Linked DNA regions of Homo sapiens. The protein of the gene in region 4 purifies or fractionates together with the protein of the main gene of each other region. This does not show direct contact. Each region holds a gene or a part of one and is shown on either strand. Other genes may lie near its edges.

The links.
Region 1: the proteins of PSAT1 (region 4) and TUBB6 fractionate together in Homo sapiens (co-fractionation; one large-scale study listed by BioGRID). This does not show direct contact.
Region 2: the proteins of PSAT1 (region 4) and HSPG2 fractionate together in Homo sapiens (co-fractionation; one large-scale study listed by BioGRID). This does not show direct contact.
Region 3: the proteins of PSAT1 (region 4) and TTC1 fractionate together in Homo sapiens (co-fractionation; one large-scale study listed by BioGRID). This does not show direct contact.
Region 5: the proteins of PSAT1 (region 4) and SHTN1 fractionate together in Homo sapiens (co-fractionation; one large-scale study listed by BioGRID). This does not show direct contact.
Region 6: the proteins of PSAT1 (region 4) and SGPL1 fractionate together in Homo sapiens (co-fractionation; one large-scale study listed by BioGRID). This does not show direct contact.
Region 7: the proteins of PSAT1 (region 4) and TALDO1 fractionate together in Homo sapiens (co-fractionation; one large-scale study listed by BioGRID). This does not show direct contact.

Annotation. Positions count from the first base shown.
Region 1 is NC_000018.10:12,321,537-12,325,583, forward strand, and holds part of TUBB6 (tubulin beta-6 chain), read left to right. Parts: intron 1-3,272; exon of another isoform or gene 3,273-3,530; coding exon 3,531-4,047. UniProt on the Homo sapiens protein: Tubulin is the major constituent of microtubules, a cylinder consisting of laterally associated linear protofilaments composed of alpha- and beta-tubulin heterodimers.
Region 2 is NC_000001.11:21,821,857-21,825,903, forward strand, and holds the end of HSPG2 (basement membrane-specific heparan sulfate proteoglycan core protein isoform b precursor), read right to left. Parts: intron 3,370-4,047; exon of another isoform or gene 2,924-3,369; coding exon 2,848-2,923; exon of another isoform or gene 2,760-2,847; coding exon 2,681-2,759; exon of another isoform or gene 2,521-2,680; coding exon 2,450-2,520; exon of another isoform or gene 2,349-2,449; coding exon 2,265-2,348; exon of another isoform or gene 1,864-2,264; coding exon 1,760-1,863; exon of another isoform or gene 1,633-1,759; coding exon 1,460-1,632; 3' UTR 388-1,459; downstream 1-387. Other genes in the region: LDLRAD2 (low-density lipoprotein receptor class A domain-containing protein 2 precursor), read left to right, coding at 346-359. UniProt on the Homo sapiens protein: Integral component of basement membranes. Component of the glomerular basement membrane (GBM), responsible for the fixed negative electrostatic membrane charge, and which provides a barrier which is both size- and charge-selective.
Region 3 is NC_000005.10:160,011,694-160,015,740, reverse strand, and holds part of TTC1 (tetratricopeptide repeat protein 1), read right to left. Parts: intron 1,083-4,047; exon of another isoform or gene 1-1,082.
Region 4 is NC_000009.12:78,310,387-78,314,433, reverse strand, and holds part of PSAT1 (phosphoserine aminotransferase), read right to left. Parts: intron 1-4,047. UniProt on the Homo sapiens protein: Involved in L-serine biosynthesis via the phosphorylated pathway, a three-step pathway converting the glycolytic intermediate 3-phospho-D-glycerate into L-serine.
Region 5 is NC_000010.11:116,939,050-116,943,096, forward strand, and holds part of SHTN1 (shootin-1), read right to left. Parts: intron 1,564-4,047; coding exon 1,417-1,563; intron 1-1,416. UniProt on the Homo sapiens protein: Involved in the generation of internal asymmetric signals required for neuronal polarization and neurite outgrowth.
Region 6 is NC_000010.11:70,871,007-70,875,053, reverse strand, and holds part of SGPL1 (sphingosine-1-phosphate lyase 1), read right to left. Parts: intron 4,007-4,047; coding exon 3,908-4,006; intron 3,218-3,907; coding exon 3,068-3,217; intron 1,704-3,067; coding exon 1,465-1,703; intron 1-1,464. UniProt on the Homo sapiens protein: Cleaves phosphorylated sphingoid bases (PSBs), such as sphingosine-1-phosphate, into fatty aldehydes and phosphoethanolamine. Elevates stress-induced ceramide production and apoptosis.
Region 7 is NC_000011.10:750,338-754,384, reverse strand, and holds part of TALDO1 (transaldolase), read right to left. Parts: intron 1-4,047. UniProt on the Homo sapiens protein: Catalyzes the rate-limiting step of the non-oxidative phase in the pentose phosphate pathway. Catalyzes the reversible conversion of sedheptulose-7-phosphate and D-glyceraldehyde 3-phosphate into erythrose-4-phosphate and beta-D-fructose 6-phosphate.

The DNA.
Region 1 (4,047 bases), on a different chromosome or scaffold from region 4:
TGGTGGTTTCACTGCTTCATAGTTCAGTGCCCCCAGGGTGAGTGCAGCATCAGGGATGGACCTGCCCACGTGAAACCAGAGAGGCTGGTCTTTGGCAGTGGCTGTGAATTGTTGCCACCAGCCGTGTGTAGACAAAAGTCAAGTTGGAGTAAGTGGGGAGAGGTCTGTATAATGCAATGCAAGTTTTTATGACTTGAATTAGTTAAATCTGCAGCCCAAAATTTCATGAAAATAAATATTTAAAACATTTTATTAAAAATTAAATTGACAAAGTCATATTAGAAATTAGTATTTCAATTTTCCCAACTCTAAGTATACTGGAATAAATTGCCTTAAAGTGAAAGAGTGAGAGTGTATTTAGTAAGTCTTGGTTAAGCCTTTTTGGTTTACATTCAGAAACAAGAAAAGAATGACTGATGTAAAATGTCATGACCTGCAAGTTAGGTCGTTTCCAATTCTGCTTTCTTCAACATTGAGTTGTTGGCCAGGTGCGGTGGCTCATGCCTGTAATCCCAGCACTTTGGGAGGCCGAGGTGGGCGGATCACTTGAGGTCAGGAGTTCAAGACCAGCCTGGCCAACGTGGTGAAACCCTCTCTCTACTAAAAAATACAAAAATTAGCCGGGTGTGGTGGCAGCACCTGTAATCCCAGCTTCTCGGGGGGCTGAAGCAGAATTGCTTGAACCCAGGAGGTGGAGGTTGCAGTGAGACAATACCGTGCCACTGCACTTTAGCCTGGGCAACAGAGTGAGACTCCATCTCAAAATAAATAAATAAATAAATAAACAAAATTGAGTTAAGTGACAGATGATTGAAAATACTTTTTTTTTTTTTTTTGAGACAGGGTCTTGCTCTGTCACCCAGGCTGGAGTGCTGTAGCACAATCTTGGCTCACTGCAACCTCCATCTTCTACGCTTAAGTGATCCTCCCACCTCAGCCTCCCGAGTAGCTGGGACTACAGGCATGCACTACCAGACCCAGCTAATTTTTGTATTTTTAGTAGAGATGGGGTTTTGCCATGTTGCCCAGGCTTGAAAATACTTTTTGATAATAGCTCACTATTTGATTTTTGGGATGTAACTCTGAAGACAATCAAAGAACTGAATGACATTGTAGAACATAATTCATTCCCATTTACATATATCTGTGGACAAGATTTCTCATATATGTAAAAATTAAGAGGAATAGAATTGATCCCAAGCCTTGGCCCTTTCTGGCAGTATTTAATATTCACCCTTGGATAAATGAATTAATAGGAAAAAAATAGATATAGATAGGTAGATAGATAACATTTAATACTTTGTAATCACAGGAAATTAAAAAGAATCAACTTCAACTGATTGGAATTATTTCTGATTTTTAATATATTCTATCAATACATTTAACAGAAGAAGAGTTTTTTAAAGTGATTATATTGTTTCCAGAAATTAAAATTATATCATATGCAACTATTTGACTTATGAAAAATAATAGATGTTAACTTTAAAATAAATGAGAGGTATCTAGTATCTAGTTTTTTCAAATGTTCATTAGCCAAGTGTAGTGGCATGTGCCTGTAGTCCCTGCTACTCAAGAGGTTGAAGTGGGAGAATCACTTAAGCCCAGGAGTTCAAAGCTGCAGTCAGCTAGGGTGGTGCCAGTGTACGCCACCCTGGGTGACAGAGCGAGACCTTGTCTCTAAATAAATAAATACAGATGTTCACAGCAATGTATGAAAGCCATTGCATTATATGAAACTCGTAGTGCCCAGAAAACCAAAAACAAAAATTAGTTCCTCCCACTCCTACGTGCATCTGTTCATATGGACATACAAACCTGTGTAATTTTTACAGCTGGGAAAAAAATGCTTCTGCTAGTGAAATAATCCATTTTAAAATGAGATAAAATGAAAAATAGGATTTTAAATTTAAGAGCCAATCTTTCAGATTCAATTTTTTTTAGGTAAAGTAAGATATACATAAGCCTGTCTGGCAAAAATGCACCATTATGGGGCTGGCCCGGTGGCTCACACCTGTAATCCCAGCACTTTGGGAGGCCGAAGTGGGTGGATCACGAAGTCAGGAGATTGAGACCATCCTGGCTAACATGGTGAAACCCCATCTCTACTAAAAAATACAAAAAATTAGCCAGGCGTGGTGGTGGGTGCCTGTAGTCACAGCTACTTGGGAGGCTGAGGCAGGAGAATGGTGTGAACCCGGGAGGCGGAGCTTGCAGTGAGCCGAGATCGCACCACTGCACCTCCAGCCTGGGTGGCAGAGCAAGACTCCGTCTCAAAAAAAAAAAGCACCATTATGCAGAAAACAGACTAGGTCTCTTTCTTGTTACTTGAACTCTGCATAAAATACAGAAGTCTTTCAGACATATTAAGCTCCTTTTCTCAACTGGCCTGGAAACAATTTGAGGGCAGGAATTACTTCCTGTGCTTAGTATTTAATTATAGGGGCAGAATAAATAATTGGTTCTGCAAACATTTTGCAACAGTAATTCTGGATGATGAATGAGGGGCTCCATTAACATGAAAAAGTGTCAAGTTTTAAAAATAAAATACTTGGGCCGGGCGCCGTGGCTCACGCCTGTAATCCCAGCACTTTGGGAGGCCGAGGCGGGCGGATCACAAGGTCAGGAGTTCGAGACTATCCTGGCTAACACGGTGAAACCCCGTCTCTACTAAAAATACAAAAATATTAGCCAGGAGTGGTGGCAGGCGCCTGTAGTCCCGGCTACACGGGAGGCTGAGGCAGGAGAATGGCGTGAACCCAGGAGGCGGAGCTTGCAATGAGCCGAGATTGCGCCACTGCACTCCAGCCTGGGCGACAGAGTGAGACTGCGTCTCCAAAAAAAAGAAAGAAAGAAAAGAAAATACTTATACATAGTACAGTATAAGATTCAGAAAGCCCAAAGGAGAGAACTTTTTTTTTTTTTTTGAGCTGTAGTCCCATTCTGACGCCCAAGCTGGAGTGCAGTGGCACCATCTCAGCACACTAGAACCTCCACCTCCCAGGTCCCAGGTTCAAGCAATTCTCCTGCCTCAGCCTCCCAAGTAGCTGGGACTACAGGCTCCCCACCACCACGCCCGGCTGATTTTTGTATTTTCAGTAGAGATGGGGTTTCCTCATGTTGCCCAGGCTGGTCTCTAACTCCTGACTTCAAGTGATCCACCCGCCTCGGCCTCCCAAAGTGCTGGGATTACAGGCATGAGCCACGGCGCCCGGCCAGTAACTTATTTTTTTAATGTATACCTTTTGTTCCCTTTGAATTCTACCATGTGCAAGAATTACCTCTTTAACATGGAACAACCAGGTCAAAATGTATATACATCTTTAAAATTGACCAGTAGCTACTTTGACTTGCCTAAAAACGTACCAGTGCATCTGCTCAGCTGCACCGTTGGTGGGTGCCTGTTTCCCCGGCCCCTCCCTTTGGCTAACAGCACATCATGGAATCACTTCACACCCTCCTTGTCGGTGACCAAGCATGGTGATGGCGCAGCCCTTTCCTGTTTAAACGGCACGGGACTCTCTTTGTTGCAGGCCAGACGGGTGCAGGGAACAACTGGGCGAAAGGGCACTACACGGAGGGCGCGGAGCTGGTGGACGCAGTGCTGGACGTGGTGCGGAAGGAGTGCGAGCACTGCGACTGCCTGCAGGGCTTCCAGCTCACGCACTCGCTGGGCGGCGGCACGGGCTCAGGCATGGGCACGCTGCTCATCAGCAAGATCCGTGAGGAGTTCCCGGACCGCATCATGAACACCTTCAGCGTCATGCCCTCGCCCAAGGTGTCGGACACGGTGGTGGAGCCCTACAATGCCACACTGTCGGTGCACCAGCTGGTGGAGAATACAGACGAGACCTACTGCATCGACAACGAGGCGCTCTATGACATCTGCTTCCGCACTCTGAAGCTGACAACGCCCACCTACGGGGACCTCAACCACCTGGTGTCCGCCACCATGAGTGGGGTCACCACCTCGCTGCGCTTCCCGGGCCAGCTCAATGCTGACCTGCGCAAGCTGGCGGTGAACATGGTGCCCTTCCCGCGCCTGCACTT
Region 2 (4,047 bases), on a different chromosome or scaffold from region 4:
CCACTGCAGCACAGCCTGTACCACGTGCTACCCATGTCCCAGCCAGGTCTCCCCAGGGGGCTGCAGTTGAGTGGCCCAGCCTTATAGGATCAGGGAGGCCATCCCTAGAGGGGCTTCGGGCACATGGGAATGATACTAGGCTCTGGGGTCAGACTCTTTGGGTTCTAACCCCCTGGCTCTCTGTCTGATGTTGGACAGGCCCCCTAACCCTCTGAGACTCAGCTGCCCCTCTAGAAAATAGGACAATTCCTGCCTCACAGGGTTGGGGGCCTGGGGGCCTCGCTGATCCCAAGCCAGCTTGCTTCACCCCCAGATCTCACCTGCCCTGCTCTGCCCCATCCACAGGCTCCACTGAGTGAAGCCCTCATCAAAGACTCAGGAGGCCCCTGGCGGGGATAGCACCGTTTATTAAGAAAAATCAAGACAAAGACCACAGGAGGGTCCCTTCTAGGACACAGAGGCCAGGCGTCCCAACCCCACAGTCTGGGGGCCACTGGCAGGATGGCACTTGAGCTGGATCTTCAGGCTCCTGCAGATGGGGCAGGGTGGTCATATCCCCCTCCTCTCTCTCTCAGTCGTGAGTCCTGCCTTCCCCCACCTAAGGCACTAGCTCTTCCTGAGCACCAGCGGCATCCGTCCGTCCGTTGTCTGTTGGAGGAGTCCCTGGGCCTTCACTTCCAGATGGGTGGGGATGTGGCCTGGGGTGGGCGGGGCCCGGTGGGCGGGGCCCTATCAGTGCTGGGCTCTGCCTGTAGCAGCTCCTGGTAAGAGTTGGGGTGGGCCTTCCCTTACAGCCCCTGAGGGAGGGACCCCAGGCTGTGTGCTGGCAGGAGGGGGTGGGAATGCAGGCCAGGAGGACGTGGTAGGAGGGGGAGTCTGCCAGAGGAGGTGCCAGGGGCTGGGTGGAGGTGGGTGGGGGTGCTGAAAAACGAGCTGGTGGGGATGGGGACCGCCTGCCCAGGGGTGAGCTGCCTTTTGCTCCACAGCCGGCACTAAAGACAATTCCCAATCCTGAGTGGGTGGCAGAGACTCCTGCGATGCCCGTCTCAGGTAGCTGTGGGGCACCAGCCCACAAGCCGAGGTTGGCTCTCCTAGGAGTGAGAACTGCCCAAGGGCTGCAGAAACAGGCCACCCAGCTCTATCTGGGGGCTCCATCGGTGGGTAGGGGGACAGTGGGGGCAGTTCTGGGCCCACCCAGCCACTGTTCCTGACCCCAAGTCCTGGTGACTTTCTGAGGTGCCCACTCCCATCCAACCTGCCTTGCTGGCCAGCCTTGTGGCTTTGCCCAGCTGTGTGTGTGAGGGTGGCATGCCCACCTCCAGTCCAGCCCAGGGCGGTAGCAGCAAAGCGTGGCATCGCCTCGGTTTCTTACAAAAATTCATAATAATATTAATAATAATATACTCGACATTGTCGGGCTGGGGCGTGGCCCGGGAGTCCGTGTGGGGCAGGCAGGTGCCTACGAGGGGCAGGGGCGTGTGTTGGCCCCGGCCTGGGCGCGGTGCTGCAGGTCCAGGGGCTGTGGGGGCGGGGCGCCGGGTCGGGCCGAGTGCAGCACCAGGTTCTTGACACAGCCTGTGATGCCTGAGGAGAATCTGCCCCCGGTCAGCGTGGCCACGTCAGGGGCTCCGCCTGCCGGGAGGTGAGAGGACAGGGCCTGTGGGCTCCAGCAGCCCAGGAGGCGAGGAAGGCTGGGCGAGCTCTAGCCCTAAGGGAGTGCCGTTCCTGCCCCTGCCCTGAGAAGGAGCCCCAGACTTACCGATGTAGACGCTGCCCTTGGCGTTGACTGCCACGTTGGGACCTGGGGACCGGCCGCTGACCAGCTCCTCACCGTCGACTTGGATGGAACCTCTGCGGCCCTCCCTGCAGTGGAACTGGGTCAGGCCCCTTTCCACAAACTTCCTGGTCCTCCCCGGCCCCACGACAGAGTCCCCTCCCTCTGATATCGAGACTCCAGACTCAGAAGTCTGTCCCTGTTTCCCAAGCTCTTTCTTTCCCCCGCTGAACGAGAGATCGGGCCCCACAAACACAGCTTCCTCATTTCTGCACCCAGGTTTCCTCCCACTCCTGGGGCACTCGCCTGCCCCCAGCGGAGTTCAGTCCGAGATGGAAGCCCGAGCCCTGGCTGGTGGGTTCTCCCCTCCCCTGGCTTCAAGTTCTGTCTCCACAGAGCTCAATACCTGCCTCTCTGCCCATGGTAGGGGGCGTCCTGCCCCACTCCAGAACGCTGGGCCCCATCCCGAGTGCCCGGCAGGGTCCCTTACCGCAGTGCTGTCACCCGGTGCCACTCGCCGTCATTGATGGGGTCCTCAGAGACCAGGCGGGCCTCCCCACTACCCAGCTGGTACCTGCAGTCATCCAGGCCCAAGAAGTATGAGCTGGGGCAGGACCGGGGGGTGGGGTGCTGGGACCAGGGAAGGGAGAGGAAGGGCCAGGTGCCAGGACCTACCTGAAGACAAGGTGCCCGTCTTGAAGCCCGAGGCTGATGAAGTCCTTGCCTTGGCCGGCCTCTCCCACCTCCTGCCAGGGAAGCACAGGGTCTCTGGGGTCCCCAGCCTGGAGAGCAGAGGCTGCCGAGGCCAGGGGGCTCTGCTTTCCCCTCCCCCCACCACTCCGGCCACCAGGAAGCCAGCTTCCTGCCCCAGGAGCCCCAAGAGCCCAGCCGGATACCCACACTCACCACACCCTGCCAGAGCAGGAGGCCACTGGCTGTGCTGGTCCGAACCTCCAGCTCGATGGTCTCGGGCACCTCGGGCAGGCTGCGGAGGAAGAGCGGGTGAGGGGACAGAAGTCCCAGATTCCCATCCTCCCCATTAGGCCCATGGGCCCTTCCAATGCCAGTCTCACCTCCTGGAGAAGACATGGCCAGGGAAGGCGAGGAAGCCATCATCGTGGAAATAGGCTCCGTACTGCCCAGGGGCATCTGTGGGAGAGAGGAGGGTGGTGCCATACCTGCTGCATCAGGCATCAAAATCCCCCGTCAGTTCCCCTGACCCCCACCTCCACGCCAACATGCAGGACTAGGGGGCTCCGAGCCTGCAGTCCCTGGGGACCCACGGGGGCTGCCAACAGAATTCAGGGAGCCTATGACCTTGGATGGGAAAGCATTACACCTCAATTTCACTCACTTCTCACTGAAATTGAGCAGTTCTTTCAATGAGATGTAGGCAAGAAACCAAAGTAGCAGTGGTAGGACCTGCAACTTTGTTACTAGTATTTGCTTATCACATGACAGTAGCTGCAAATATTTCAAAATATCATTTACACATATTGCTGCTTTGAAATTGTGGTAGCTACTGAGATCACCAGATCTTGTTATTTGATGTGTTAATAAAGAAGCACATATATAGCAAGTCAGGAAACTTAAAACATGTTTTGATTACTTTACTTCAGCATAATTGCTTTCCTTAAATCAATGTATTTTATTTTATTTTATTTTGTGTAGTCAACAGGATCCGTGTCGGGTGACCCGCCATTCTACTTGCCAAATTCTGTCTGGCTTTAGCCCTGAAAGTCCCACATCCCAAGAAACCCCTCAGTCCGGAGCTACTGGGACCGTTGGTCACCTTGGACTGTGGCAATAAATGGTTCAGAGCCTTGGTGTTCTCTCCATCTTACAGAAGAGCAGGCAGGCTTGGGCGAGTGACTGGCCCAGGATGTCCATACTGTGTGTGGCTCCACACCCCCCCAGCCCTATCTGCTCATGACCCATCCCACAGGCCGGCACTGGCCACAGTAGCTCTGGCAGGGGACAAGAGTAGGGGACCCTCTGCTACCCTCCACCAAATGATGAGGAGAACGGCTGACATTTACCTAACACCTATGATGTGGCTGTGCGGGGAGCGTCCCATCCAGCTACAGACACCACTGCATTTAACTCAATCCTTACAACAACCCTATGAATGAATATTATATATAGATAATTTTTATTTTATTTATTTATTTTTGAGATGGAGTCTCGCTCCGTGGCCCAGGCTGGAGTGCAGTGGCACAATCTTGGTTCACTACAACCCCCACCTCCCAGGTTCAAGCAATTCTCCTGCCTTG
Region 3 (4,047 bases), on a different chromosome or scaffold from region 4:
TAATTTGCTAGAATGGCTCACAGAACTCTGGGAAACACTTTACTTACACTTAGTAGTTTATTACAAAGGACATTATGAATGATATAGAACAGCCAGGTGAAGAGACACACAGGGAAAGGTAGAGGGAGAAGGGGTGCAGAGCTGCCACGCCCTCTCTGGGTGCTACCCTCTTAACACTTCCATGTGCTCATCAACCTGGAAGCTCATCAGATTTCTAGTTCAAGAGTTTTTATAGGCCAGGCGCAGCAGCTCACACCTGTAATCCTAGCACTGTGGGAAGCTGAGATGGGAATATTGCTTGAGTCCAGGAGTTCGAGACCAGCCTGGGCAACATAGTAAGACTTCATTTCAAACACAAAAAAATTTAGCAAGGTGTGGTGGAAGGCGCCTGTGGTCCCAGCCACTTGGGACATTGATGTAGGAGGATTGCTTGAGCCCAGGAGGTTGAAGCCTCCAGTGAACTATGATCGCACCTCTGCACTCCAGCCTGGGCAACAGAGCGAGACTTGGCTCAAAACACAAGAAGAAAAAAGCTTTAATGGAGCTTAATCTCCAGCACTTGCCCTCCTCCTTTCCTGGATTTTGGTAGGTGGTGCCAAAAGTTCCAACCCTCTAAAACTCTAATCACTTAGTCTTTTTGGTGACTGGCCCCATCCTTCCTTAGGCTATAGATAGGCCAGATCCTAAAAGTTATCTCATTAGGATGAACTCAGGTGTTATCAAAAGGGGTACATTAAGAATAACAAAAAAATACACTACACTATCAGAAAATTCCAAGGGTTCTAGTGGCTCTGTAACAGGAACCAGGGACAAAGACCAAATAAATTTACTATACTACAAATACCCTGTTTAACATTGTCTAGCTTTCCAAAATTATGAATGATGCTGCAACACATCTATGTATATACATTTGTGTATATTTCTAATAATTTCCTTGAAATAAATGGCTACAAGAGAATCAGCGTTAATGCTGTCATGTCCAATATGGTACTTACTAGCCACATGTGACGATTTTAAAATTATTTATTTATTCATTTTGAGACAAGGTCTCACTCTGTTGCACAGGCTGGGGTGCAGTGGCGTGATCATGGCTCACTGCAGCCTTGACTTCCCAGGCTCCAGGGATCCTCCCACCTCAGCCTCCTGAGTGGTGGGGCTACAGGCTTGTGCCACACGTGATTATTTTTATTTTTAAAGGCTTTTTAAAAAATTTTAATTAAAAAAAAATTTTTTTTTTTTTGGAAAGACAGGGTCTCACTATGTTGCCCAGGCTGGTCTCAAACTCCTGGGCTCAAGTGATCCTCCAGCCTCAGCCTCCCAAGTGCTGGGATTATAGGAATGAGCCACTATGCCTGGCCCATGTGACTATTTATTTATTTTCTGAGACGGAGTTTTGCTCTTGTCTCCCAGGCTGGAGTGCAATGGCCCAATCTCGGCTCACTGCAACCTCGACCTCCTGGGTTCAAGCAATTCTCCTGCCTCATCCTCCTGAGTAGTTGCGATTACAGGAGCCCGCCACCAGGCCTGGCTAATTTTTTAATTTTTGGTAGAGATGGGGTTTCACTATGTTGGCCAGGCTGGTCTCGGGTCGAACTCCTGACCTTAGGTGATCTGCCTGCCTCAGCCTCCCAGAGTGCTGGGATTATAGGTGTGAGCCATCCCGTATGACTATTTAAATTAATTACAATAAAATTCAGTTCCTCAGCCGTAATAGCCACATTTCAAGTGCTCAATAGCCTGATGTAGTCAGCAGCTACCATACTGCATGGTGCAGGATGTAGAACATTCCTATCCTTGTAGAAGAGTCTATTGATAGCCCTATCTAAAGAAATGGTCACATAAAAATTTGGTATCTGCATCCCATGAAGTGACATAACAATTTAAATTCTCAATATTAGTATATGAGTTCCAACATCCTCTCCTTGTCAACATCAGATCAATATTCTGATCTGATAGATGAGACATAATGTTTTAGTTAGTATTTTTTTTTTTTTTTTTGAGACAGAGTCTTGCTCTGTCACCCAGGCTGGAGTGCAGAGGCCTGATCTCAGCTCACTATAACCTCCATCTCCCAGGTTCAAGCGATTCTCCTGCCGCAGCCTCCCAAGTAGCTGGGATTACAGGCGCACACCACCACGTCCAGTTAATTTTTGTATTTTTAGTAGAGATGGGGTTCCATCATGTTGGTCAGGCTGGTCTCGAATTCCTGACCTCATGATCCGCCCGCCTCAGCCTCCCAAAGTGCTAGGATTACAGGCATGAGCCACCACGCCCAGCCTGTACTTTTCATCATTATTAATGAGGCTGAGTCTTTTCACATTTTTTGGCCATTTTTTTTTTTTAGTCATTGTTGAACTATCTGAACTTTATTTTAAAAGATTCAAATATAACACTATCCTGTTTCTGATGAGCTATTAAAGCCAAACCATATATGTAGAAGACATTTCTTCAATCTGTTTCGCTGGCTTCTTGAAAATTTTGGAAAGATATTTATCAAAATAGCATACAAACACCTAATAAGAGTAGTACCACAGTTAGCTGAAGGCAATCTGCACTCTTATAGGTTGTTTCCTTAAAGTAGAGTCAGTGGCTTACATTTCTCTAAATAATAAGACTAGCACTGCAGTATGTTACTGTTATGAGATATTCTTACAAATTTTCAAATTAGCTATGAAAACACTTAGACTGATATATAAATGAATAGAAAATATTTATGTTTTAAACATGAATACTACTGTATGATTATGTTTATATGAATGTCTGGAACAGGAAAAAACCACCTATGGGACAGGAATCAGAAGAGTGGTTAACCAGAGACTGGCAGGGTTGGGAAAGGAATGACTGATAAAGCACACAAATGGAGTTTCTGACATGATGGAAATGTTCTCTATCTTGATAGAAACGTGAACTATGCAGGTGTATACAATTGTCAAACTCACTGCATTCTACACATGAGAACTGATATACAGTTTCACTAAATTATATCTCAATTTTTAAAAGGAGGAAAAAAGTGAAAAAAAGTATTGTTCTACTTAGAATATTAAACTTACAGGCAATAAAAATAATTATCCTCACTGGGTGTGGTGGTTCACGCCTGTAATCCCAGCACTTTGGGAGGCCAAAGTGGGAGGACTGCTTGAGCCCAGGAGTTGGAGACCAGCCTTGGCAACATGGTGAGACACTGTCTCTACCAAAAAACCCACAAAAATTAGCCAGGCAGGGTGGTGCAAGCCTGTTGTCCCAGGTGCTCAGGAGGCTGAGGTGGGAGGATCCACTTGAGCCCAGGAGGTTGAAACTGCAGTGAGCCGTGATCACATCACTGCACTCCAGCCTGGATGACACAGTGAGATCCTGTCTTAAAAAAAAAAAAAATCATAAAAGTATTTATAGAACTTAAAGTATGATTTTCTGGCCTAGGAGACACAAAAAAAGTTTTACTAAATTAGAGGTAGGGATCAGACTTTGTGACACCTTGAGCCAAACCATTCAACTGTCAAATCCAGAGGGCACTAGAAAATTAATATAATTTCAGGGCAAAATATATTAAGGTATCAGAAAAGCACTACTAACTTTTTAACATAGATGCATAATCAGTGTTTCTAAAAAGCCTGAAACCTGTTATAATGTTATGGAACAGTAGTTAATTTTTTTGAGCTGTATTTGCTGTGGTAGTTTATGAACTTGGCTCACTTTTGCCCTTTTTCCTCCTGTTCTGGTGGTGCACACTAGCACAAAAACGAACACGTTCACATTAAAGCTAACTGATTTGATAATGAAAAGCGTCTAAGGAGAGAGAAAGAGAAGATGCTCCTACCCACCCCAGGCTACCTTCCCACCCCCACTGTTAGGCTTAGGCTGAACATTTATTATCTCATCTCAATACCAATGTATCACAACCTGTTCAGTGAGTGAGCTCCTTAGTGGCATAAACTACAATCTAGTTCAAGTTCTTTGTAGACAAACTCAAGACATTACAGTAACTCTTCAGAGACTACCTTGCTTGTGCAATCAGAAGGAAGTAGGACAGCAGGACTTCAGTCTCCAAAA
Region 4 (4,047 bases):
GCCCTCTGCAGAGCACTGATGTCTAGCCCCTGTGGCTCTACTTAACACAGGATAAGAGGTCCTGCCTCCCCTCCCACCCAGCCCTCTGCAGAGCACTGATGTCTAGCCCCTGTGACTCTACTTAACACAGGATAGGAGGTCCTGCCTCCCCTCCCACCCAGCCCTCTGCAGAGCACTGATGTCTAGCCCCTGTGGCTCTACTTAACACAGGACCCTCGTGGCTTCCAGTTCTTTATTAACTCATGTTTCAACTCCCATACCGTCTAAAATCTTGAAAACACAAGGGCTCTAAAACGCTTACACAGCTTATAGAGTGGTCTCAATTCTTCCCACTACCAGTGTGACATTTTTAAGACTTATGCCTTCATTTCTAAAATGCCACCTGCAAACACACAGGATAGGGTTCCTAACTCTGCCTATTAAATGATTAAATAAATCGAGGTATGTCCATTCTACAGGACACCATATATATTTTAAAACAAAAAAGGGCCAGGTGTGGTGGCTCATGCCTGTAATCCCAACACTTTGGACGGCCAGTGTGGGAGGACAGCTTGAGGCCAGGAGTTTGAGACCAGCCTGGACAACATATTGAGACCCTGTCGCCATAAATTTTTTTTTTAATGTAGCCAGGCATGGTGGCACTTGCCTGTAGTCCTAGCTACTTAGGAGGCTGAGGTGGGAGGATCACTTGAGCCTACGAGTTTGCGGTTTCTGAGAGCTATCATCACACTGCTGCACTCCAGCCTGCACAACAGAGCAAGACCCTGTCTCTAACAAAAATAAAATTTAAAAGTAAAAAATAAAAATAGGCATTTGAGCTGACATAGCAGAATGCCCATGGTATATTGTGGAGTGGAAAAATAGAATTCACAGAACAATTTGTATGGTAAAGTTCAAGTTCCATTTGCATGATTAAATATATGACTCTGTATATTTGCATATGCCCAGTTAAGAGTCTGTTAGGATACAAAGCAAGCAGTGAACAGTGGCTACCCTGGTGACTCTGCCCACCTGCAAGTCTTTGCTAAGAGTATGTTACTGTTTGTTTCTTTGTTTCTTTGTTTGTTTTTTGAGGCAGAGTTTTGCTGTCACCCCGGCTGGAGTGCAGTGGCACGATCTCAGCTCACTGCAACTTCCGCCTCCCAGGTTCAAGTGATCTCCCGCCTCAGCTTCCAGAGTAGCTGGGATTACAGGTGCACGCCACTACGCCCGGGTAATTTTTGTATTTTTAGTAGAGACAGGGTTTCACCATGTTGGCCAGGCTGGTCTCGAACTCCTGACCTCAGGTGATCTGCCCGCCTTGGCCTCCTGAAGTGCTGGGATTACAGGCGTGAGCCACCACACCCAGCCTAAGAGTATATCACTGTTATAAATTTTTTAAAGCAATACAAAATAGTCCCTGTGCACCAGGGCTTAGAAAAGGACACCAGAAAGTCCCCTGGAAAACTCTCCCTGGCTGTTCTAAGACTCCAGCTCTGCAGATGAGGTTCTGAAGTTGATGTTATGGCACAGTTTTCTCAGGAATCGGTGAATGTAGCCACTGAGTTGAGCACTTTTCCCAGAGGAAAGCTCCCAAAACTGGCTCCACTACACACCCCTCTGTGAATTCCAGGATTCCAGGCATCCCCATCCCACTGGGAGAAGGTAGTCTGGGACCAGTGAAGCCTTCCAAACAGGCCCACAAACTTAATTTGCATGCTCCCATTCTTTTATTTATTTATTATTATTATTATTTTTGAGATGGAGTTTTGCTCTTATTGCCCAGGCTGGAGTGCAATGGCACAATCTTGGCTCACTGCAACTTCTGCCCCCTGGATTCAAGTGATTCTCCTGCTTCAGCCTCCCGAGTAGCTTGGATTACAGGCATGTGCCACCATGCCTGGCTAATTTTTGTATTTTTAGTAGAGACGGGGTTTGTCCATGTTGGTCAGGGTGGTCTCGAACTCCCGACCTCAGGTGATCCACCTGCCTCGACCTCCCAAAGTGCTGGGATTACAGACATGAGCCACTGCGCCTGGCCTGTTCTCATTCTTTTAACAGGTGGCCTAAGATTAATGGTCTATTTGTTTTGTATTTTTATTAGTTACTTCACCTCATACTGCAGCTAAAACAAACGTATGCTTGTGTATTCAGTTAGTCATGGTAAGTAAAAAATATTTTGTGCAGTCAGAAGGGAAGTTTAGGGATCTTTTTCTCTATGCACTAATTGGGGTTAGTGTGTTCTACTGAAGGGTTAAAGAGAACAGCAGTGTGTTCTTTATTCCACTCTAGTTCATCACTCAGGGCTACGGAGCAACGATTTGAAGGCAGTTTTATCCAGCACAATTAAATCAAAGTTCCCAGGGCCTATGGTCATTAGACTCTGTGGGGAAAAAAAAAAAAAGGCGTCTTTTCAAAAGTGAGGCCTTTTCAAGAACTCTACTATGTGATACAAAGTTCTGAAGGGCTCCAGGTACCCCATCAGCCTCACATCACGGACTGGGGAGGGGATTTTGCACACATCTTGATGTCTCCATTTGCAGCTTGTTCTCATTGGGTGAGCAATGATTTTCTAACCTTGCATGGTTTTTGTTTTGTTTTTGTTTTTGTTTTTGTTTTTGTTTTCAGACAGTCTCACTCTGTCACCCAGGCTGGAGTGCACTGGCGTGATTTCGGCTCACTGCAACCTCTGCCTCCCAGGTTCAAGGGATTCTCCTGCCTCAGCCTCCTGAGTAGCTGGGACTACAGGCACCCGCCACCATGCCTGGCTAATTCTTGTATTTTTAGTAGAGACGGGGTTTCACCATGTTGGTCTGGCTGGTCTCGATTTCCTGACCTTGTGATCCACTCGCCTCGGCCTCCCAAAGTGCTGGGATTACAGGTGTGAGCCACCGCACCCGGCCGTGTTCATTCCTTTTTAAAAAAATGCTCTTCAAGGTAACCCTTGAAGAAGGTACCAGAGAGTGACTGTCTGCCCTGCCCCAAGCTGTACCCTGATCGCAACTTGCTGGCCTACAGGCTGTGGGACAGTTCAGGAACAGCACTCTTTCCCTGCCCCCTCCCACCTTCTCACTTCTGAAATGGGTGATGGTCTTGGGCTCCTCTGAAAGCCTCCTCTAGCTGCAAGGCAGGCCCTGGCCCCATCTCCAAACAGGTAAGGACAGCCTCCTGTACCTCTACCTGCCATGTGCAGCCTGACATCTCGGCCCCTTCCCCCGGAGGCCAGCACTTGAGGTCCCCAGCTGCACCCTCACCGCTCAGCCTGCCCAGTTCTTGTGTCCCAGTTGGCCAGTGACCACTGGTGCTTCCCCAGAGGTAAGACAGGCGAGTGGGAGGTAAGACTCAGCCCCACTCCCATCCCTACCATGCATTTTAGAAACATTTCAACCAAGGTAAAAGACAGTAGGGTTTAGAGGTGACCAGGAGAGTGCATCCCAGAACACTCCCCTGAGGAAAGTGGGAGACACAATGTGAGGAGCTGCTGCTCTGCATCGTGTGACCAAGCAGAAACCCAGCAGAATTTTCACCAGAATTCTAACATTGAAAAAAATTCCGGCGGTGGCTCACGCCTGTAATCCCAACACTCTGGGAGGCCGAGGCAGGTGGATCACCTGAGGTCAGGAGTTTGAGAGCAGCCTGGCCAACATGGTGGAACCCCGTCTCTACTAAAAATACGAAAAGTAGCCAGGCATGGTGGCAGGCGTCTGTACTCCCAGCTACTCGGGAGGCTGAGACAGAATTGCTTGAACCCGGGAGGCGGAGGTTGCAGCGAGCTGAGATCACGCCACTGCACTCCAGCCTGGGCAACAGAGCAAGATTCTGTCAAAAAAAAAAAAAATTCTTTCCTTTCCATAGTAAATTATGTAGAAGACATTTTCCCTAAGCAGCACCTGGAGGAGGGGAAGCTCTGACAAAATCCTGGCCCAGATGGAACCACTAACTGCACCAGCCTGAGCCCCCTCTTTCCTACGCTCCTTTAAGAGAACTTCCACCAAGACAAGAAAATCCTGTTGAGAGAAGAGCTGGACTCCAACAGTGAACTATTCTCCTAAGGCAGAATCCTGCAAA
Region 5 (4,047 bases), on a different chromosome or scaffold from region 4:
CTGCTGTGCTGGCAGCGACAATTTCAAGCCAGTGGATCTTGGCTTGCTGGGCTCCGTGGGGGTGGGATCTGCTGGGCTAGACCACTTGGCTCCCTGGCTTCTGCCCCCTTTCCAGGGGAGTGAATGGTTCTGTGTTGTTGGAGTTCCAGGTGCCACTGGAGTATGAAGAAACACTCCTGCAGCTAGTTTGGTGTCTGCCCAAATGGCCACCCAGTTTTGTGCTTGAATCCCAGGGCCCTGGTGGTGTAGGCACCCAAGGCAATCTCCTGGTCTGTGGGTTGCAAAGATGGTGGGAAAAGCGTAGTATCTGGGCTGGAGAGCACCATTCCTCACAGCACAGTCTCTCGTGGCTTCCCTTGGCTAGGAGAGGGAGTTCTCCAATCCCCTGCACTTCCCGGGTGAGGCAACACCCCACCTTGCTTCAGCTCACCCTTCATGGGCTGCACTCACTGTCCAACCAGTTCCAGTGAGATGAGCCGGGTACCCAATGCAGAAATCACCCGCCTTCTGCGTTGATCCCGCTCGGAGCTGCAGACCGGAGCTGTTCGTATTCGGCCATCTTACCAGCCACCATATATCAACATTTCTTATTGAGGCAAAACAAATCAACTCAACCTCACCACCAAGTTTGTAAAAACTTCAGAACTTCCAAGGATTAAATGTCAATACTGTTGCCACAGAGGCTTTGACAGGTGGTAACAAGTAGCAGCTAACAGCCTTTCCTTCCCAAATGAGGTACATTATAAGTAGTATAAACATTGATGTAATTTTTCTTAAGTGGTCTCTTTAATTTGGAAGTCTTTGTTCCACTTCTTTGCTTCTCCTCTCACCTACCACAATGACTATCCTTTCTTCTTGGCACACAGAGGTAGGCTGTGTCAGCTGGAATAGCTCCACTCATCAAATTGAAATAATCACTTAGGAAGTCTTTAAACATACACATTTGTGCAAGTTTACAAAATCAAAAATTTTCTCTAAGCAAACAATTACTACTAATACGGACTGTCATTTTCTTTGAATAAAACCTATGCCCTCCAACAAGTGCTCTGAGTTGAATACAGCCTCTTAGTGTGTGCAGTCTCCAAAAAATATAACATTTCCAAAAATTGAATTTCCAGACTTTGCCTTATCCAAGCTGTTTTTAAGTTATACCTCTTTCCCTTGCTTCTTCCGACCCTTTGGACAGTTTAAAGATTATTATAAAGTCTATAATAGCGTATTACAAATTTCAGTTTCACAACATTAAGTTCATTTAGTTATTTTTTTCTAAAAGGTGGTTGAAAGCACTTAGTAACTAAGGCAAAATATGAAACAGTAAATGACTGGACTGACTGCACTGGCTCCCTTCATCTTAAATATATGTGTGTATGCATGTATGTGTGTGTGTACCTAAGATTCCAGAAGAAAATGGGTTACCTTTTGTTGATGCTGAATTCTCTCTTCTTCAAGTTGCTGGGTGAGTTTTGCATTTTCGTCTAAAGCTTTCAAAAGCTGCTGATCAGGGATGGAGCTCTGCAGCAGAAGGTGGCTTTGTCTCTTTAGCTTGTTTTGCTCAATGAACATCTGCAAAAGTTTGTTACAAGAATGTATATATCAATCAATCTCACATACCTCCTCAACTGTAACTTCAGCAAAAGAAAAGTACATGGAATTTTTATTAAATCATTAAAGGCAAATTCTGACTTCTATAAGTTTTAGAAGTAGTGATTGCTATGATTTCATTCCTTTTATATAATCTTTAATACCTTTACTCCTGCCCCAACAAGATATTTATACAATAAGCTGGTCTTACTCTTCAGTTTTTAATATTTTATTATTGCTTTAAGATACATTAATATTAATAGTAGTAGCTAATATTTCTCAAGAATTTACCTTGTGTACTCCACTAAATATTTTATATGGATTATTTTAATCCTTACATCAATCCTATTAAAGTGCTTCTACTATGAATAGGTAACATTTACTAAACACTATGTGATAGATATGGTGGGAATCATTTTACATTCATTATATCATATAATCCTTAAAACAACACTATCAAGTAGACACTACTATCATCTAATTTTACTAATAAGGTAACTGAGGCTCAAAGAAGTTAAGCAACTTTCCCAAGAACACACGTAAGTGACAAGACCAGGACTTAAACCCATATCTGATTTACATGCCCAAGCTCTTAACCATCTGGCTAAGTTCCTCTACTATTTGCTAGATCTAATGTTTTGTTTTAAACTAATTAGTTTCTCCCTAGTGATAAAAGTAGTTAACAGTAGAAGGGTAAAGGGGAGAAGGGAGACAGTATATTTTATTGAGCACTGTATTAAGCAATTTATATGTTATTCATCAAATCCTCACAACTTTACATGATTGAAAATAATATTGATTTCTATTTACCTGTTATTTCTTTTCCTTAACACTCTACCCAATTTGGCCAGTGAGTGATTCCAAGTATGAAATGTTTTTGTAAACTCTGAAATCTGGCCTACCAATTTTATAATAGAGCTTCACCTTTTCAGATTTTTAACAGCATTTTAAAATTTACATTATAACTTAACTGAAAGCTCTGAACTGCAAAATGATTTGCTAAAGCCCTCATATTAGTTTGTTCAACAACTTCACCCATCATGTAACAGAAAAAGTCAGCAAATAAAACTCAGGACAAAAATATTTTCCATCAACCTCCATGTGGCAAGACCACAGCTTTAATGATTTATACAATCCTTAAGCTCTTGATCAGTATCGACTTCCACATCAAAGTCAAGTCATGAATACAGTATACTAAAACACTAACATTTTCTTCCCAGTATGTCTTCCTATGAAAGGGAAAAAAAGGTCAGAAGCTTTCCTTCTTTGCCTAGGGATTTATGAAAAGCCTACAAAACTACGACAGGGTTCTTCTGCAGAATTAAAACACATTACAAAGTCAAACAGGTAAATAAACAATTGCATATACATGAAACCCACATTCTTCTTCCATTTGTGTGAGAGTGAGAGGTATAGAGACTGCAGTGAGGAAGAGTATGTGCATGTACACTTGGCTGGAGAAGGGTGAGATGCAGCTTCAGCATTCTAAGAAAGAGTAATCAATATTTCATCACAGTATCTTAAACTTCAGACCAGTGATTTAATTAAAATGAATTGTTTTGGGTGACCATTATGATTACAGTAATTTTTTTTTTTTTTTGAGATGGAGTCTCGCTCTGGCACCCAGGCTGGAGTGCAGTGGCACAATCTCGGCTCACTGCAACCTCTGCCTCTCAGGTTCAAGTGATTCTCGTGCCTCAGCCTCCCAAGTAGCTGGGACTACAGGTGCCTGCCACCATGCCTGGCTAATCTGTGTATTTTTAGTAGAGATGGGGTTTCACTATGTTGGCCAGGTTGGTCTTGAACTCCTGGCCTCAATTGATCCCCCCGCCTCGGCCTCCCAAAGTGCTTGGATTACAGACGTGAGCCACCATGCCTGGTCAAAAAATTTAATTATGTTGAAGAAATTTAAAATTTTAATATAGTTATGAAGACAACTGATAGTTTTCTTGTTGAGGGGGATTAAGTTTTTGGTTTTGTTTTTTAAATGAACTAGCGGGAGTTAAGAATGGGGGGTAACTTTCAATTTTTATTTTATACATTTAGAAAATATTTGTATCTTTGTGCAAGGCACACATACTCCTTTTTAATTAAAAATATAAAGTAAATTAACCTTAAAAATTGATTTCTAAGGCTCTAGACTATAAGCTCCAAGAGGGTAGGGCTCACATTTGCTTTCTTCACCACTGGATTCCCAATGTCAGCACAGTGTCTGGCACAGTAAGATGTTTGCTGCATGCCCTAAGTGGTAAGTAAAATGCAAAAGAATGGGACTCTGTTGTTAAACTAAGTTATGTGTCTTTGTGCAGTACTTACCTGTTGAAAACCTGAGAATGCATAAACTTTGTAAAAAGGAAAATATACTAGTTCCAACGTGGTGCTATTTTTTAAAAAAAAGTTTTCTTCTCACTATTGTGTAGATTGAATCTAGATATTGTAAAATTGTTGAGTGCCACTGCAAATATT
Region 6 (4,047 bases), on a different chromosome or scaffold from region 4:
AATCTGCCCATCTCCACAGTTCTAAAAAGTCATATGTAATCCCTAAAGCAAGAAATGGTATAGCAGGTCTTAATAAATGGCCCTATCAGAGCTATAGGAGGACCTTTTATATATATCTAATTTTTATTTATTTGTTTGCTTATTTATTTGAGACAGGGTCTTGCTCTGTCACCCAGGCTAGAGTGCAGTGGTGTGATCATAGCTCACTGTAACCTCAAATTCCTGGGCTGTTCAAGCAGTCCTCTTGCCTTAAGCCTCCTGTGTAGCTGGGACCAAAGGTGCACACCACCACATGTGGCTAATTTTTATTTTTATTTATTTTTTATTTTTGAGATGGAGTTTCGTTCTTGTTGCCCAGGCTTGAGTGCAATGGTGCCATCTCAACTCACCGCAACCTCTGCCTCCCGGGTTCAAGCAATTCTCCTGCCTCAGCCTCCTGAGTAGCTGGGATTACAGGCATGCGCCACCACGCCCGGCTAATTTTGTATTTTTAGTAGAGACGGGGTTCTCCCTGTTGGTCAGGCTGGTCTTGAACTCTGGACCTCAGGTGATCCACCCGCCTCAGCCTCCCAAAGTGCTGGGATTACAGGGATGAGTCACCGCGCCCGGCCTCATGGCTAATTTTTAAATTTGTTGTAGAGATAATGTCTCACTATGTTGCTCCGGTTGGTCTTTAATTCCTGAGCTGAAGCGATCCTTTTGCCTTGGCCTCCCAAAGTGCTGGGATTACAGGCCGGAGCCACCGTGCCTGGCCAAGGATCTTTCTCAAATGAGAAATGCCTGCAGGCAGCTTTCCTTCCCCCTCAATATACTTAAAGAGCCTCCCCAATCCAAGTGACACATAGAGAGATGGGCAGATAAGATGTTAACAGATACATTAGACAAAGCATGCAGCCTGTTCTGGCCTTGGCTTAACCCAAGATTTCATTGCCCTCCTTTCCTCATTCCTTCTGGCCCATTTCCAATTATTTTCTTATTCCAATGATTCTTCAAGTATGATTCCTGGAGCAGTAGCATCAGTATCTCCAGAAATGGAAATTTTTAGAGCCCATCCCAGTTCCACTGAATCAGAAACTCTAGGGGTGGGCCCAGCTACCTGTGTTTTAACAAGTCCTTCAGGTGATTAGAATGCATGCTCAAGTTTGGGAATCACTGTCCTAACCATTAAATTGTACATTAGCCTTAGGGTAAGAGCTGCCAGTTATTAAGACATCCATAGAGATGAGATAAACTACAAATGAGGCCCCCGTCTCAAAGACCCTCCAAAAGTCAGGGCAGAGAAAGGGAGCTTCTTCTCCCAGGCCAGCTGGTCTGGCCTAAGCCCTAAGCTGCTGCCCTAAGCCCTCTATATCGCAGGAGACAACAGGTGGGCTAGGGCTATGGATACTTAGCCAGGCAGGTGCCTTGAGCCTACTAGGACAAAAAAGCAATAGACAAGGCAGAACCCCAGTCTTCCACACATACTCTGACTTGAGGAAGCGAGCAGTTTTGATGATCTGTTTGGTAGCTTCAACATAGCCGTTCTCACCGAAGTGCATCAAGGCAGCCCAACAGGCTGCGCTAATGCCACCAGGCCGTGAGCCTGCGATGGTTGGGGAAGCATAGATGCCACCCTGCCAATCTGTATCGACGAAGAACTGATAGTTCCTGTACTTCTTGTCACTATACAACACCAATGATGAGCCTTTTGGGGCATAGCCATACTGTGGAAGAAGTAGCAGACAAGAAAAGTGAGAGTATAGTTCTGTCTGGCAGACCTTGTCCCAGAACTCTCATCATGCAAAGGAAATCCTATTTATTTCTCAGTTTCTCTGTTATGTTTCCCACTCACATTAAGGATTCAAACTTAAAATGCTAAAGGATAGTAGGAACTTAAGGGATGGAGTTTAAATTCTCTCTGTTAGGAATGAGGAATCTGAGACCCAGGGAAGAACAGCGCCCAGTTAATCGGTTTACTCCCTCTCTTGCCCAGCATGTGGTTTACCTTATTTAAAATATTTCTCTGGAGACCATATGTCAGGATGAAAGCAAGGGTAAGTTTGCAATGGAAGCCAGGAAAGGATGGAATTTGTCACTTCAAGTTAAAATCACCATCTGACCCCCTTCCCATCTTTTTTTGCTTAGTATTACTAAGAATATTATGCTTATGAGAACATAATGGTGCTCAGAAACTAAAAGCTACTTAATCCAGCTTTAAAATTAACTATGTAACTGGTTTCCTTATAGAACATCTGACCCCCTAATTAACTCTTATTAAAACTAACGTGGAACTAATTTCATTACCTGAACCATCCAGAAATGGATGGTTATGGGAAAAGGACACAGGAGCTATCTGGATGGTAAGGAAAAAACAGATGCTGACTGAAAATCGGCTGCAGATCACACCGATTTTGAAAAACAAGTCTTTAATATACTTGAGTTTAAAACAAGCTCTGAAAATGCAATCAAAACAAGGTACACATTCCTGAGGCTGCTAATACTTCTTCCACATCTGGATGTATATTCAATAGCGTTATCAACTGATCTAGACTTTGTCTCAGTCCACCAAGGGTGGCAGGCGTGGCCATCTCAAATGCTGAATGTTCCTGAGCACACAGGTTCTTCCCATTTTCCAAAGGACTCTTCCGTCAACATTTTCCCGTCATGTACGCTCAGGAGCCCAGTTGCACAGCAGCTCTAATGTTATCTACCAGCATGGGAACTCCACTACCAACCCTCACACTCCTCTACCCTCCACCTCAAATCAGCTCAAGGCTTCAGGGAGCTTTTTTAACAAGGGCCACTACACTAGCATGTTCTAGTTACACACAGTCAGTGGATACAGAAATTCTCTTAGCCAATTTGAGATAAAGGTAACAGGTTCATTTTCACTACTGCTTGTCACCTCTACCACTATACCCCATCACCTGAACCAGCTGATCTGGTGACGGCAAAGAGAGAGTTTAAAACAAGCATCTGATGAGAATTCTATAGTTAATTTTATACTTTGCGGGGAAGCTACCAATTTATTTTATCAATAATAGTCAAAATAATCAACTGGTAACACTTGATCTCCTCCTTAGCTCACCTTATGGGTGTCAGCTGAAATGCTGGTTACACCTTTCACCCGGAAATCAAATGGGTGCTCCAGTGGGTATCCTGCTTTCTCCATAAAGACGATGAGGAAGCCTCCCAGACAAGCGTCGACATGAAGGGGTATTTTGTATTTGACAGCCAGCTTGTTCCAAAAAACAAAGAACATAAGAGAATTTCCTTTATAGCCCTATAATAAAAACTGCAAGACATGGGTGGAAAGATGGGCTATAAACACAAGGCTATTTTGTATTATGCCTCCCATGTTTTTAAAAAATGGCTATTTTTAACATTCCCAACAAAATTTATCTTTCAAATGTATTTTCCCTTCAAAATAATTCATCTGAAATATGGTATCAATTTTATATTTAAATATGCATGACCTCAAACGCTCTGCGGTATCAAGCAGGAAATGAGTAGAGCTCTGATTTAGGCTGCCTCTCGCACAAGGGAAAGGTCCTGCCTCAGTCACTGCAGGATGAGGCGTGAGGGAAAGGGAGGCGCTGAGGGGCAGCATGTGGAATATCACCCTTTTGGTGGGCACATTCCTACATGCAGATTATTTCCAGATCTCAATCTAGAAGGCAATCCTATTTCAGAATTTCCAGTTTAAAAGGCCTCAGCCTTGTACTATCTTCCCCCACAGCAGAGACTAGCAACTTTTAAAGGCTTGCAACTGAGCTGCAGGGCTTCCCCTAGGGCTGATGAGAGCTACTTATCACTACTGTGGTCAAAAACAAAAAAAAAATCGCTTCTATTTGCCAAGTACTGCCCCATTAGGCTTTGTTTTAAAATATCCATTTGCCTGCCTTAGCAGCCCATTTCTCTCATATACCTTGGCCACTTCAGGGACAGGATCTATTACACCATGAGGAAACTGTGGGGTAGAACAGACGAGCATGGCAGTGTTCCTGGAGATAGCTCTTCTCATTGCCTAGGGATTTAAAGTTTAAAGGAAAATGAGAATCTATGTCA
Region 7 (4,047 bases), on a different chromosome or scaffold from region 4:
TGACAATGTCCCAAGTTTTTGTTCAAATTGTACTGGTGGTCCCTTTTATAAAGCTGACATTCTCTGCTTTAATCAACCCAGTCATAAAATGCTACTCAGTGGCTGGGCACAGTGGCTCACACCTGTAATCCCAGCACTTTGGGAGGCCAACGGGGGTGGATCACTTGAGGTCAGGAGTTCGAGACCAGCCTGGCTAACACGGCGAAACCCTGTCCCTACTAAAAATATAAAAATTAGCCAGGCGTGGTGGTGCATGCCTATAATCCCAGCTACTCGGGAGGCTGTGGCAGGAAAATCACTTGGACCCGGGAGGTGGAGGTTGCAGTGAGCCGAGATTGTGCCACTGCACTACAGCCTGGGCAATGGAGCAAGACTCTGTTGCAAAAAAAAATAAAAAAGTTTTTTTCTTCAGAGTAACCAACTAAACAGTTCAAAACGTCCAAACTTGTAGCCACTGAGTAGCTTTTTTTTTTTTTCTGACACAGAGTCTCACTCTGTCATCCAGGCTGGAGTGCAGTAAAATGATCTCGCCTCACTGCAACCTCCTCCTCCAGGGTTCAAGTGATTCTCCTACCTCAGCGTCCTCAGTAGCTGGGACTACAGGCTCACACCATGATGCCTGGCTAATTTTTGTACTTGTATTTATTTTTTATTTTTTTCCGAGACGGAGTCTTGCACTGTTGCCCAGGCTGGAGTGCAGTGGCGCAAGCTCAGCTCACTGCAACCTCCAACTCCCAGGTTCAAGTAATTCTCCTGCCTCAGCCCCATGAGTAGCTGGGATTACAGGCACGAGCCACCACGCCAGGCTATGGTTTTTTGTGTTTTTTTTTTTGTATTTGTATTTTTATTTTTTTGAGACGGAGTCTCGCTCTTTCACCCACGCCGGACTGCAGTGGCGCCATCTCGGCTCACTGCAAGCTCTGCCTCCCGGGTTCACGCCATTCTCCTGCCTCAGCCTCCCGAGTAGCTGGGACTACAGGCGCCCGCCACTGCGGCCGGCTAGTTTTTTGTATTTTTAGTAGAGATGGGGTTTCACCGTGTTAGCCAGGATGGTCTCGATCTCCTGACCTCATGATCCGCCCGCCTCAGCCTCCCAAAGTGCTGGGGTTACAGGTGTGAGCCACCACACCCGGCCTTTTTTTTTTGTATTTTTAGTAGAGACGGGGTTTTGCCATGTTGGCCGGGCTGGTCTCGAACTCCTGACCTCAGGTGATCCACCCACCTTGGCCTCCCAAATTGCTGGGATTACAGACGTGAGCCACTGCGCCCGGCCTCTGAAGAAACAACCTGAACTGCATTCCTCTGCTCTCATACCAGAATAATCAACAGAGAGGACTTCTGTGACCGATGTGTGGGGGTTTCTCCCCACGCACCAAACAAGCAATTAATTCTTCAGTGGATACCAGCTGGGCATCCTCCAATTCAATTCCAACCCTGTCTACCTGGAGACAGCCTCAGATCCCACAGGTTGAAGGCTTAGTCCCAACCAACCATTCTCCATTCCCACCCGTCACAAGTCTGGGCTCCAGAACTTCTGATCCACTGGCTTCAACTTGGGGTTGTCAACTTGAATTAACCTTTGTGTTCCATTAATTTGCTGGAGCAGATCACAGAAGTAAGGGAAACACTCACTTACATGTACTGGCTTATTATACAAAGGACACAGAGGAAGAGATGCATAGGGCAAGGCATGTGAGAAGGGGCACGGTGCCTCCATGCCCACCCTGGGTGCACCACCCTTCAGGAGGCTCCATGTGTTCAGGTATTTGGAAGCTCCCTGAACCCTGTCCTCTTGGGCCTTTTATGGAGACTCTACTGGAGAGACATGACTGAAGTATGGACAGCCCTGTTGAAATATTATCATCTAATGAGTGAGGAAACCCAGCAACGCCTCTGTGTTCACCTTCTTACCGTCCTCCGTGCAACATTCCTTCCTCCAGGGTATGTGATGGGACCCCTTTTGAAATGAGGGTCTTAGGACCCACAATTAGAAAAGCAAGTAGACGGCCGGGCGCGGTGGCTGGTGCCTGTAATCCCAGCACTTTAGGAGGCCGAGGCGGGCAGATCACGAGGTCAGGAGATCCAGACCATCCTGGCTAACACGGTGAAACCCCATCTCTACTAAAAAAAAAAAAAAAATACAAAAAATTAGGTGGGCGTGGTGGCGGGCGCCTGTAGTCCCAGCTACTCTGGAGGCTGAGGCAGAAGAATGGCGTGAACCCGGAAGGTGGAGCTTGCAGTGAGCTGAGATCACGCCACTGACTCCAGCCTGGGCGACAGAGCGAGACTCCGCCTCCAAAAAAAAAGAAAAGAAAAGCAAGTAGATAATTTATTTATGGACAGCTCCAAAACAGGCAGGAAAGATTCCTCCCTTGAAGAGAGAAAGGAACAGGTGAAAGGAGAGGAGAAGGTCAGTGATGGAAATTCTGTTTTCCAAGGCCTGCTCCTGAGGCCTAGAGTGCCCCAACATTATAACAGGGCTGTGGGAGTTATGAGACAGGAACTGTGTACACACACATGCATGCATGCACACACATCAATTACCATCAAAATGAGGTTGATGGTTTATTATTATTATTATTGTTATTTTGAGATGGAGTCTCGCTCTGTCGCCCAGGCTAGAGTGCAGTGGCGTGATCCCGGCTCACTGCAACCTCCGTCTTCCAGGTTCAAGCAATTATCTCGCCTCAGCCTCTCGAGTAGCTGGGATTACAGGCACCTGCCACCATACCCGGCTAATTTTTTGTATTTTTAGTAGAGATGGGGTTTCACCATGTTGGCCAGGCTGGTCTCGATCTCTTGACCTCAGGTGATCCACCCTCCTCGGCCTCCCAAAGTGCTGTGATTACAGGCGTAAGCCACCAGCCAAAAATTTTTTGTAGAGATGTGGTCTCACTGTGTTGCCCAGGCTGGTCCCGAACTGCTAGGCCCAAACAATCCTTCTGCCTCAGCCTCCCAAAGTGCTGGGGATTATACGCATGAGCCACCGAGGCTGGCCCCAACTTTCTCTTGTTCTTTGGACAGATCGAAGACCACCCAGTCTGCTTGAACTGCAATTTTTTCTTCCCAAATAAAACGTTGAATTTAGAGATTCGTCTCTACATTTTATTTTGACTTCAACACAGATACCACATGGTTATCTTCAGCAAGGATTGTTAGCTGGGAGTGGTGGCGCACATCTGTAGTCCCAGCTACTTGGGAGGCTGAGGTGGGGGGATCACCTCAGCCCAGGAGGTCAAGGCTGCAGTTAGCCGTGTTGCACCACGTGATTGCACCACTATACAGCCTGGGTGACAGAGCAAGACCCTGTCTCAAAAAAAACCCCAAAAACAAAAACCCAAGGATTCTTTATTCTTAAAACTATTGTTTCTTTTAACACATTAGTTATTTCTCACATAACCAAGCTAGGAATTCAAAGAAGCCAACGAGGCTTAACCTGGGGTCTTGTTCATCTGGCTGTCCAAATGGAAAGTGGAGGTGAAGAGTTATGGCCATTGACACCCATAGAATGGCCCATTGCTCCAGATTAGCCAGTTCAGTAACTTTTTTTTTTTTCTTTTGAGACAGAGTCTCGCTCTGTCGCCCAGGCTGGAGTGCAGTGGCGCGATCTCGGCTCATTGCAAGCTCCGCCTCCCAGGTTCGCACCATTCTCCTGCCTCAGCCTCCCGAGTAGCTGGGACTACAGGCGCCCGCCACCACGCCCAGATAATTTTTTTGTATTTTTAGTAGAGATGGGGTTTCACCGTGTTAGCCAGGATGGTCTGGATCTCCTGACCTCATGATCGGCCTGCCTCGGCCTCCCAAAGTGCTCGGATTACAGGCTTGAGCCACCACACCCGGCCGAAGTTCACAAGTTCAGTAACTTTATTTGGCAAATAAATATCTTTTTTTTTTTTTGAGACAGGGTCTCACTTTGTCTCCTAAGCTGGAGTGCAGTGGCGCAGTCACAGCTCACTGCTGCCTCAACCTCCTGGGCTTAAGTGATCCTCCCAACTCAGCCTCCTGAGTAGCTAGGACTACGGTGTGCACCAATACGCCTGGCTATTT